Regions from separate parts of the Homo sapiens genome. Here region 2 is linked to region 1. The links come from fine-mapping of genetic effects on gene expression. Tissue or cell type: gastroesophageal junction. Region 1 holds a variant in brackets; the other region holds the start of a gene. All regions are shown on one strand. Distances are from middle to middle.

Evidence for each region. PIP is the estimated chance that this variant, and not a neighbour inherited with it, causes the effect.
Region 2: it holds the start of RUNDC3B, and the variant in region 1 is fine-mapped to the expression of RUNDC3B in gastroesophageal junction (GTEx, PIP above 0.99).

Annotation. Positions count from the first base shown.
Region 1 is chr7:88,090,049-88,095,205 of GRCh38, forward strand. The region is part of intron 4 of ADAM22 (ADAM metallopeptidase domain 22); the gene reads left to right. Among named protein-coding and RNA genes, the nearest start is that of SRI-AS1, 120 kb to the right of the region's middle. The variant C/T (reference allele first, on the strand shown) is at 2,238.
Region 2 is chr7:87,625,607-87,630,763 of GRCh38, forward strand. RUNDC3B (RUN domain containing 3B) reads left to right here and starts at 2,792. Exons shown (of 11, transcript NM_001134405.2): 1 at 2,792-3,339. The coding sequence starts at 3,218. It also overlaps a transcript of ABCB1 not described here. RefSeq lists an enhancer at 2,547-2,841 and silencers at 2,707-2,936, 2,987-3,036.

The sequences.
Region 1 (5,157 bases):
CATAGATTCTTTAACAGTGTGTGTGTAAATACAGTTGATTAAAATGATCACAAACAATTAATGAAGCAATGATAGGGTTGTTTGGCAGATGTGACTACCTGTATGTTAAAATCTGTTTTTATGTTTTCCTTGCTGCACTTGCTGGGAGATTTAGGTTAAGGACTCTTGCTGTTAAGCTTAAACTCTGAGAGCAGAACTTTTGGTGTGGAACAAAGAGAACCCTCAGGTGCAGGTGTTACAGGTTGTGGCATGAGCATGCAGGTACCTCACATAGGTTCTCTCAGACAGGAGAGGAAATTTTGGATGGTATAGCTATGAACATGGTGTCTTTCTATGCTAATCAGAACCAAGTTAACCACAAATACACAGATTTTAAAATTAGGTGACTTGCAAAAATTTATTTTCAAGACCATTCTCTGAAAAACAGTTTGGCCACGACTTAATGTCAGTTTGACTAGTAATGAAACTAAAATGACTTTAAAAATATTTATCAATACATCTTCATACATGAATATTTAGTTGTTAGCTGTAGGTAGGCTAGCTTTAAACATTATTATATTTTAATGACTCCATTCTCCCCTAATTACTGAAATAAAATGATTTTTTTAAAACCTCAGGATATAAAGATCCTACAAGAATAAGAGCTCAACTTTCTAAAAGTGATTCCATAAGTAGGGTTCACCATATGGTAATTTAATGAGAAATTATTGAATTGAATTTCATGGTGCTTATGGGAAACAATATTAAGATCTTCTGATTTAGAGATGATTCTGTAATTGCAGATAGGGCCAACACAGGAAACCGTGTCCCTTGGTTCCTGTGGGTTTGAGCTGTTGCCCATTTTTAAGTACTTTCATTTTTAAATAGTGAATTGTGTCAGAGGAATACTCATTAATTTTCTCTGTTACTCGTTCAAGAACTGTGATATTCTCACAGAAGTATTTTAAATACTGAACAAAAGTTTATCTGGAAATATTATAGTTTTGATGGTTAGTATATGTAAGTCATAGTGAGCTAGCTTCATTGATTAATAATTACTGTATATTGCTGTCCTGTAGAAAGATTATGCTTTCATATACTGTCTATTAACTCAGGCTCCCTAACTCAGTCTTAGGGGCAAATAACTGCCGCCAGTAATTTACTGTTAGTCATTTGGAAGAGTTAACCTTTTCTCCTTACAAATCCAAACTCATTTTGCTTACTTAAGGCTACTGATGGATTATTCTTTTTAGTTAATGACACTCATCTTAATGGAATTAAAAAATATAATGACTTGTTGTATTTCTGTTTTACATCATTGTCAAAGTCTTGTATTTTTACAAATAAATATTATATATTCCTATAAGTGCTCACTTTAACACCAGGGATTTCCTGTATTATGCAATCTGTATGTCTTTCAATCCTATGATATTCAGATGAGATCAATACTAGTAACTGGATTTAGGATTAATAAAAGTACTGGTAGCAGTTGGAGTAATAGCAAATACTTGTATGGTATTTACTATGTGCTAGATGCCAGTCTAAGTGTTTCACATATGTTAAGTCATTTTATCCCCAAGTAATACCACTGTTATCCTCATTTTGCAGATGAGGAAATGAAGGCACAGAAAGTTTAACTAACTTGCCCAAGAATTTTAAGAAAGGAAGTCTGGCACCAGAATGTGTGCTATAATCTACTGTAGTTTATCCTCCCTATGGAAATAAATGATCATAATAGCAGAGGAATTAGAATGCAAATATTTTAATTACAGCCCTTCTACAATTTACCATTTGTAATTCACCGTCTCTTTTAGTAGTTGTTTTAATAGGCCAGAATTGAAGATGTGTTAGTTCAGGTGAGTCCCAATTATTCCAATATAAAATTTTCTTTATTCCAAAGACCAATGCCTTCTAAAGACTCCCCCACCCCCCGCTTTTTTTAAAAACTATTTCATTTTGGAGTTCATTTTTAGTCCTTCTTTGTTCTTCATAGAAGTTGGATTGTGTATTGTTCAGCACAGGGGAGCACCATCGCTTCAAATCATTATAGTTTGAAATATGTTACTGTCTTGCACATGGCAAACACATGGCTCAGTTTATGCCCATCTTTTGCCTATGTGTAAATTTATCTGCATCTGGAGTAAATGTGAAGTTTTATGGGCAAGAGTAACTAAGCTGAAACATACCATTATCCTGCCAAGAGACTAGAAGATATTTGATTGTATCTCTGCCAAAGAGCTTCAAAATACCCATCCCCC[C/T]TACCTCTTTTACCCTCCGTTCCACAACATACACAGCCCGCAAGCAGGAAGAGAGTAAAAGAGCCATACAAATCTAACAAACAAACTGATAAAGTGTTTATTTCCTCCTCACATGTAATATCAGTTATTCCAGATATGTTTCCTAACTTTACATGTAACATCAGTTATTCCAGGTATGTTTCCTAACTTTACTTTTTATCTGCCACTAGGCATCATTTAGTATCTTCTGGATGAGCTTATTGATGTGTGCATTTCCCCCCTGGCAGGCTTATGCAGACATATGCTCCTCTGCCATCTTGTAATCAGTGTGGTTTCAGGAAGGTCTCAGATTTCATGATTTAATTCTCTTTGCATTATAGGAAAAAAATTTGGGGGGATTAAGTAAATTTTGCTTTCTCTTGGGACTGAAGCAAGGTTGCTCTAGGTCCATCATCATGTATAATGCATCAACTGCCTTAATGGCATTGTTAAGATTGCAAGTGGTCTTAACTCTGTATCCTGAGGAAAATATGTTGGCCCATTGCCAGTTTATACAGGTCAGGTGTCTTAGTGCTGGAAGAAAGGAAAAATGAAAAGTGACAGCTGCTGTCAGCATGAGTTCTGTTCCTAAGCTCTGTTTGTAACCTATTTGAGTAGAAAGTCCTTTATTTTCTTTCTGGTATAAGATTTTTTTTCCCCCAGTTAACTATCTAAAGAGTTATTTCATCTGTTAATGTTCAAGATGTTATCTATAAACTTAAAAGACATATTCAGCCATAAGTTTTTTTAAAAATCAAAGTAGCACTAACTGATGATATTTCCATGTATGGAACTAATTAGCTATTTTATAATAGAATTTACTATTTTAATTCTAATTATAGAACTAACCTTTTCATTATAGAATGTCTTTTCCAAATCTACTCTTGCAATTTTTTTGAAACTAGAGTGAACTATTACAGTAATTATAATTGAACAGAAAGTAGTAGAAATACTGTTTTTGATTTTAAACTGGTTTGAAGCAAAAAAAAAAAATCACAAATTATTCCCTTGGTGTTGTCATAAGCTACAATTATTTTCCTATTCATTAATAAAAATACCTTAGTTTCCAGTGAATAAGGTGTGGCCACTATAAAATCAGAAAAGGTAATAAAGACCAGAGAATATATACTATTGGTATTGAGTGGTTTGAGTGTTTACAGCCTTTTTGAAGGAGGATAATTGATCAGTGCTACATTTGATGTTTTTTGTTTTGTTTTGTTTCTTTTTTTCTTTCTTTTTGTTGTTGTTGTTTGTTTGTTTTGAGACAGGGTCTCACTCTATCTCCCAGGCTGGAGTGCAGTGGCGCAGTCTTGGCTCGCTGCAGACTCAGAGTCCCAGGCTCAAGTGATTTTGCCACCTGAGTCCTAAAAGTAGCTGGGACTACAGGTGCATGTCATCATGCCCGGCTAATTTTTGTATTTTTAGTGGAGATGGGGTTTCACCACGTTACCCAGGCTGGTCTCAAATTCAAGTGATCTACCTGCCTCAGTCTCCCAAAGTGTTGAGATTACAGGCATGAGCCACTGCATCTGGCCACATTTGATATTTTATCATAACACTATTTTCTTTGCACCTATGAGGTAGAAAAAGAGCAGATGGACTTGATTTTCCCCATAGCCACTCATAAAAACTCAGGCATGTGGAGTTTAAGTGGCTGGAAAGCTGACATGAGAGATTTACAGTGGAATAGAAAAAAAGCCATAATTCTCAGATACTCAATGTGTGTTCTCAACCCTCATTTATTCAATAGACATGAGTTGAGTGCTTGCCAGGGGCCAGTGACAGGGATATAGCTATAAACAACAGATGATGCATTTCTTGCCCTCATGAAGCTTGTCCTTTAGTAGGAGAGACAGGCATGATGCAGGCAACTACTGAGAACTCTTTGTAAATGATAGAAATGATAAGTGTTGAAAAGAATTACATGTTGCTCTGAGGGCACTTGCTGGGAGACCTGACCTCATCTGGTTGGTCAGGGAAGACTTTCTTGAGGAAATGATATTATTTCCAAAGTTCAAAAAATAACAGGTGAATGAAATGGGAGCAGAACAACTTTTCAGGTAGTCAAATCAGCATGTGCAAAGGCCAGAGGCCTTGATGCAGGATCTTGGTGTGTGAAAGGGGCAGAAAGAAACCAGAGAAGGTGGACAGAATAAGAGGTGGAGCAAGTGCACAGGAAGAAAAGGGATGAAAGTAGGAGGATGGTATTTGACCAGAGCCTCAACTCAGAAGAATCAGGTACAATGTAAAGGAAATCAGACTAACAGTGTTTTTGGACTTCCTACATTGGTCACTTTTTGCCTTCGTTTTCTCTTCTCTTGAAAATCTGGAAATTATTTTCTAACTCTGTGGATGGCAGAGTGGTTGCTTTGGTAATTCTGAGTGGGGTTAATAGGTATTCCACATAGCAATTAGATTTTTGGACAGAGTAAATGCTATTTTCTTGAAGTCCTGCTGTCTTTCTGATTAAATAAAAAAAATAAACTTCTTGAATTGTGTTAACAAATGGTACCCATTTTTTGGTTGTTATTTTTAACTCCAGGACATATCTGTGGTTTGAGGACAGTAAAGCTTAGAGACCATGAATATTGTGAGGGCTAGAAGGACCTAAACTCAAATCCTGACTTTGCCAGTTAATATACGTACGTCCTTAGACAATTTACTTATGCCTCCTATACTTCATTTTCCTCCTCTGTTAAACAAGACAAACATGTAGCTCAGAGCTTTGGGTGTGGGAAATACTCCATAAATATTAGTTCTGATATCATTATTGAGGTAAAGTGGCAATTTGTACAGAATTTCTGGCAAAGTCTTTGGTGGCTTCTACCCATTCTTACTGCTAGTTTCTGATTCCACTCATGACAGGAAGCATGTCAGGATCACCAGCGGCAGTTCTTTACTT
Region 2 (5,157 bases), 460 kb before region 1:
ATTGCCAGCGCAAATATTTTGCTGAGACTGCCTGCATAACCAGTGCATCTGTTTCCTGATGGCTACTTCTGAATCCAAACTGTTGAACTAGCAAGAAGAGACAAGTTAAGTTGTAGCTCCTAGGAAAAGAAGACTCTTTATAAGCCTCCGTGTCACAGGAGAGCAGACACGTAATGTTCTGGAAGAAGTGCACTGACTAGTCACAAACATCCATATATAGAAATTTCGCCTGCTTTTATTAACTTGAAAGATAAAGTGTAAAGTCTGACTAAATTGTTTTCTTAAAATTTTAATGTATGAATGAATATTTATCATAGCACATTAGTTAAGACTGACACTATATACGTATGGCTAGAGAGAGAGGAATATATATATATATATGTACATATATATGTATATGTACATATATATATATATAGAGAGAGAGAGAGAGAGAGAGATGGAGTCTCATTCTGTCGCCCAGGCTGAGACATATATATATATATATATATATTGTCATATATATGTGTCATATATATTGTCATATATATGTGTCATATATATTGTCATATATATGTGTCATATATATTGTCATATATATGTGTCATATATATGTCATATATATGTGTCATATATATGTCATATATATGTGTCATATATATGTCATATATATGTGTCATATATGTGTCATATATATGTGTCATATATGTGTCATATATATGTGTCGTATATGTGTCATATATATGTGTCGTATATGTGTCATATATATGTGTCATATATATGTGTCATATGTATGTGTCATATATATGTGTCATATGTATGTGTCATATATATGTGTCATATGTATGTGTCATATATGTGTCATATATATGTGTCATATATGTGTCATATATATGTGTCATATATATGTGTCATATATGTGTCATATATATGTGTCATATATATGTGTCATATATGTGTCATATATATGTGTCATATATATGTGTCATATATATGTGTCATATATATGTGTCATATATATGTGTCATATATATGTGTCATATATATGTGTCATATATATGTGTCATATATATGTGTCATATATATGTGTCATATATATGTGTCATATATATGTGTCATATATATGTGTCATATATATGTGTCATATATATGTGTCATATATATGTCATATATATGTCATATATATGTCAGAGAGAGAGAGAGAGAGAGAGATGGAGTCTCACTCTGTCGCCCAGGCTGGAGTGCACTGGCGCAGTCTCCGCTCACTGCAACCTCCGCCTCCCGGGTTCAAACGATTCTCCTGCCTCAGCCTACCGAGTAGCTGCCACTACAGGCGCGTGCCACCACACCCGGCTAATTTTTGTATTTTTAGTAGAGATGGGGTTTCACTATGTTGGTCAGGCTGGTCTCGAACTCCTGACCTCGTGATCCGCCCGCCTCAGCCTCCCAAAGTGCTGGGATTACAGGCGTCAGCCACCGCGCCCAGCCCATATATTTTTATTCTACTAAACAGAATAGTAGAATAAAATTAGACATGGTAGCTGAAAAGGATGATTTTTTGACTATTTTAAATAGAGATTTTTAAACTTTAAAAACCTCAGAAATTAGGAATTTACAACTTTATTACACAAACGTGCGTTGTTAAAACATTCAAGAGTAACAGTATGCCCTGCATTAACAGGGATAATATATAAGAAAAATAGAGATAGCCACACAAAACTATATATTCTCTGACATTCTTTGACAGAAACTTCAAAAGTAGAGGTGAAAGATACATGGATTTTGGAGCCACTGAAGCCGTGAAATTTCAGTAAAAATTATGTCAAATGTGACTTCAAATTAAATTCGAGAAACATTTATTGAGAACCTGTTCTATGTACAGCACTGTGCTAGGTCCCATAGGGAGAGTAAGTCATTTAGGATTGCACTCTAAAATCTGGGCATATTGGTGCAAAGGGAGGTGAACAGCAGGCGTAGGTGAGTGTCAGAGGACCTGACCCAAGCTGGGACCCTCCTGCAGGTAAAACGGTGGGTAGTGAGAAGCTCTAGGAAGGGGGCGCTTCCGAACACGCGCGTCGAGGAGGGCGTTCCAGGACTCTGAGGGAGCAGCCCAGCTGGACCGAGGCCGCGTCGTTCCTGGGCTTACTATTCCCAGACCCGGACTCCCGATTCCGGAGTCACGGCCCAGGACGCGAAAAGACTCTACACTGGCACCACGCTCCTCCTTAGGCGGGCCGTCAGTCCCGGGTGCGGGCTGCGCTGGAGGCTGAGGTGGGAGCGACATGGTGTGGAGGGGCAAGAAATGTCGGCACTAGACGCGCCAAGAAGGAGATTCTACGAGCAATTCCCCCCTCGGGCCATTGTGTTGCTGTTTATTAGCCCCTGGGAGGGCGTCAGGACAAAAGGAACCCTCCTCCCTTCTTAGTACTTAGGCCCAAGGTCGGGTGTGGGAGCCGGCGCGCTGCTTTCTAGGCAGGCACTGAAGCTACGGCAGCCACGCAAATAGGTATCAGCCGTTAAAGCTTGGCTACAGGCAAGGGGGGGGCAATAGGCCCCTGGCGCTGTGGGGCCCCGCATCCCACAATCCCCGCGGCTAGCCTGTGTGGCTACTGGCGGCAGCTAGCGGGCTGCGAAAGCGAGCCCAGCGTCCTTGACAGCAGCCCACGCGTCGGGGCGGGGCTTGAGCCCGCTGCTTTAAAAGGTCCGCGCGGCCGGCCCCGCCCCTCTGGTGCCGCGATTGGATCCGGCGGGGGTAGCGTTGATTTGATAGGCGCAGAGAGGGTGGGGCTGCGCACGCGAGGCCGGGGGCCTTGCCGCTGCCTCCCGGGCTGGGGCACGAGTGGCTGCGGAGTGTGGGTGGTTGGGCGTGAGGGGCCGACGGGCTCGCGCGCGCGCCGTCTGCTGAGGTCCCTCGGGAAGGAGGAGAGCGCCTGACGCCGACCCGCAGGCGCAGCCCGGCAGTCGGCGGCGCGCCGAGGGCGGAGGTGGTGCGTGCGTGCGTGTGTGTGTGTGTGTGTGTGTGTGTGTGTGTGTGTGTGTGGAGCTCGGGTGCCAAGGGCGAGCCGTCAGTCCCCGGGTGCGAGTCCCTGCTGTCTTCCACACCCTTCCTCCCTCCAGGCTCCTTTCCTACATCCTTCCCGCGCCCCCACGGTTGCGGACCGAGCGAGAACCCCCTTAAGCAGGTGTGGGGGGCGTGCGGGGTGGCACGAGACAAAAGGGGCACGGGGGTAAGCCCGCCATGGCCTCCCGGAGCCTGGGGGGCCTGAGCGGGATCCGCGGCGGTGGCGGCGGAGGCGGCAAGAAAAGCCTGAGCGCCCGCAATGCTGCGGTGGAGAGGAGGAACCTGATCACCGTGTGCAGGTACGGCAGCGCAGGGCGAGGGGAACCAGCCTCCCGCCGGGGCTGAGAGCTCTGGGCTTCCGCGCGGGTCCTTGGGGGTCCCGGGCATGATGGGCTGCCGCCCAGTGCCCCCGCCTATGTTGCGCCAGCCAAATCTGTGAGCGCGCAGCTCCTTGGACAGGGGCCCGGGTCTGGACACCGTCGCAGCCCTGGACTTTGTGTCAGTTCCAGTGCTGAAGGTACTGGAGGGTAGAGCTTGGGGCGGGGCTGGAGGAGGATTTGTTTTGAATGTGCAATCTAGCGTCAGAGTGAAAGAGGAGGGCAAGGAAGAAGAGCTCTTTCATTTAATGCCCATTCAGCTGTCAGCGAGCTTTGGATAAAGTGGTAGTTACTGTGATTGTTTACTGTGTTGCCCCCAAATCAGAGTGCATTTCGTTGTTTTGGCTTGTTTACATTATCTTCAGCCATTTCATTTCACACGTTAGTTGAGTGCCTACTACATGCCAGCCATTGTGTATGTGAGCGTGTGTGTACTATCCACTTTTCAGCTACAGTGCTAGTGCTGGTTCTGCAGTTGTTATTAAGAGTGGGACTGTGGAGGATACCTAGTCTTTATGTCAATGATTTATTTTAAGGCCTGCCTTTCCTTAATGCTTTATAACTGTAAATGTAGTATTTCCTTCAGAAAAATATAGAAACAATAAAAGAATAATTACTATTGGGCCGGGCGCGGTGGCTTACACCTGTAATCCTAGCACTTTGGGAGGCTGAGGCGGGCGGATCACGAGGTCGGAGTTCGAGACCAGCCTGGCCAACATAGTGAAACCTCGTCTCTACTAAAAATACAAAAAATTAGCCGGGCGTGGTGGCGGGCTCCTGTAATCCCAGCTACTCGGGAGGGTGAGGCAGGAGAATCGATTGAACCTGGGAGGCGGTTGCAATGAGCTGAGATAACGTCATTGCACTCCAGCCGGGACCACAGGGGGAGACTTCGTCAAAAAAAAAAAAAAAGAACTATTTATAGTAAGCCTAGTATTCAGAGATAACTGGTTTTTAACATGCTGATATATTTTCTTTAAGTCTTATATCTGAGTATTAAGAAAAATTGAAACCCTAAGCATCAATTTCTTAGGAACTTCTCTGAGCCATTAAGTTGTTTTAAAATTACTTTCCTCCATCAGACTCCTAATCATCACCTAGTGATATTCCTCTTAAGAATCAGATGATGATGAAACTTTTTCTTCCTTTGCAATTTCTCTGTATTTTTCCGTTATTTTTCTTGTGTAAAAATGTGTCTAGCATCTTAAGTGGAATACAGATAATTATTCCAGGACTTAAATGCAATAACTCACAGTGACTTTTTAAAAAATACTTGAATTATTACAAATGTTTATCTAGCAAGAAGACCTTCTTCATTGACTGTATTTGTATAATGTAATTATTACAGCACTTTGAGTTGTAAATGGTAAAGTAATATGGTATCCGTTTAATTTGCCGTTTGTGCTGTCTAGGATGTAACTTTTTGAGACAAATAGGCTGTTAGGTGTTTTAAAATATAGGTAAATATCTTTAAAGTAGGTAAATGGAACCATAAGCAAGGCTGATTTTCTTAACCATAATATACAGACATCAAAAATTGCTTTAAAAATAAGGGTAGTTTCAACATATACAGTGCTTCTTGGGGGGTAACATATTTAATAAAAGCTCTATCAGCTTTTGTTAAACTTCACAAGGGCAGTGATTCTATCTGCTTTTTGCTTAGTCTTTTTTTTTTTTTCTTTCAAATTCTCAGTATAGCATCTAACACTCAAAAAATATTTATTGAATGAATAATTTCAG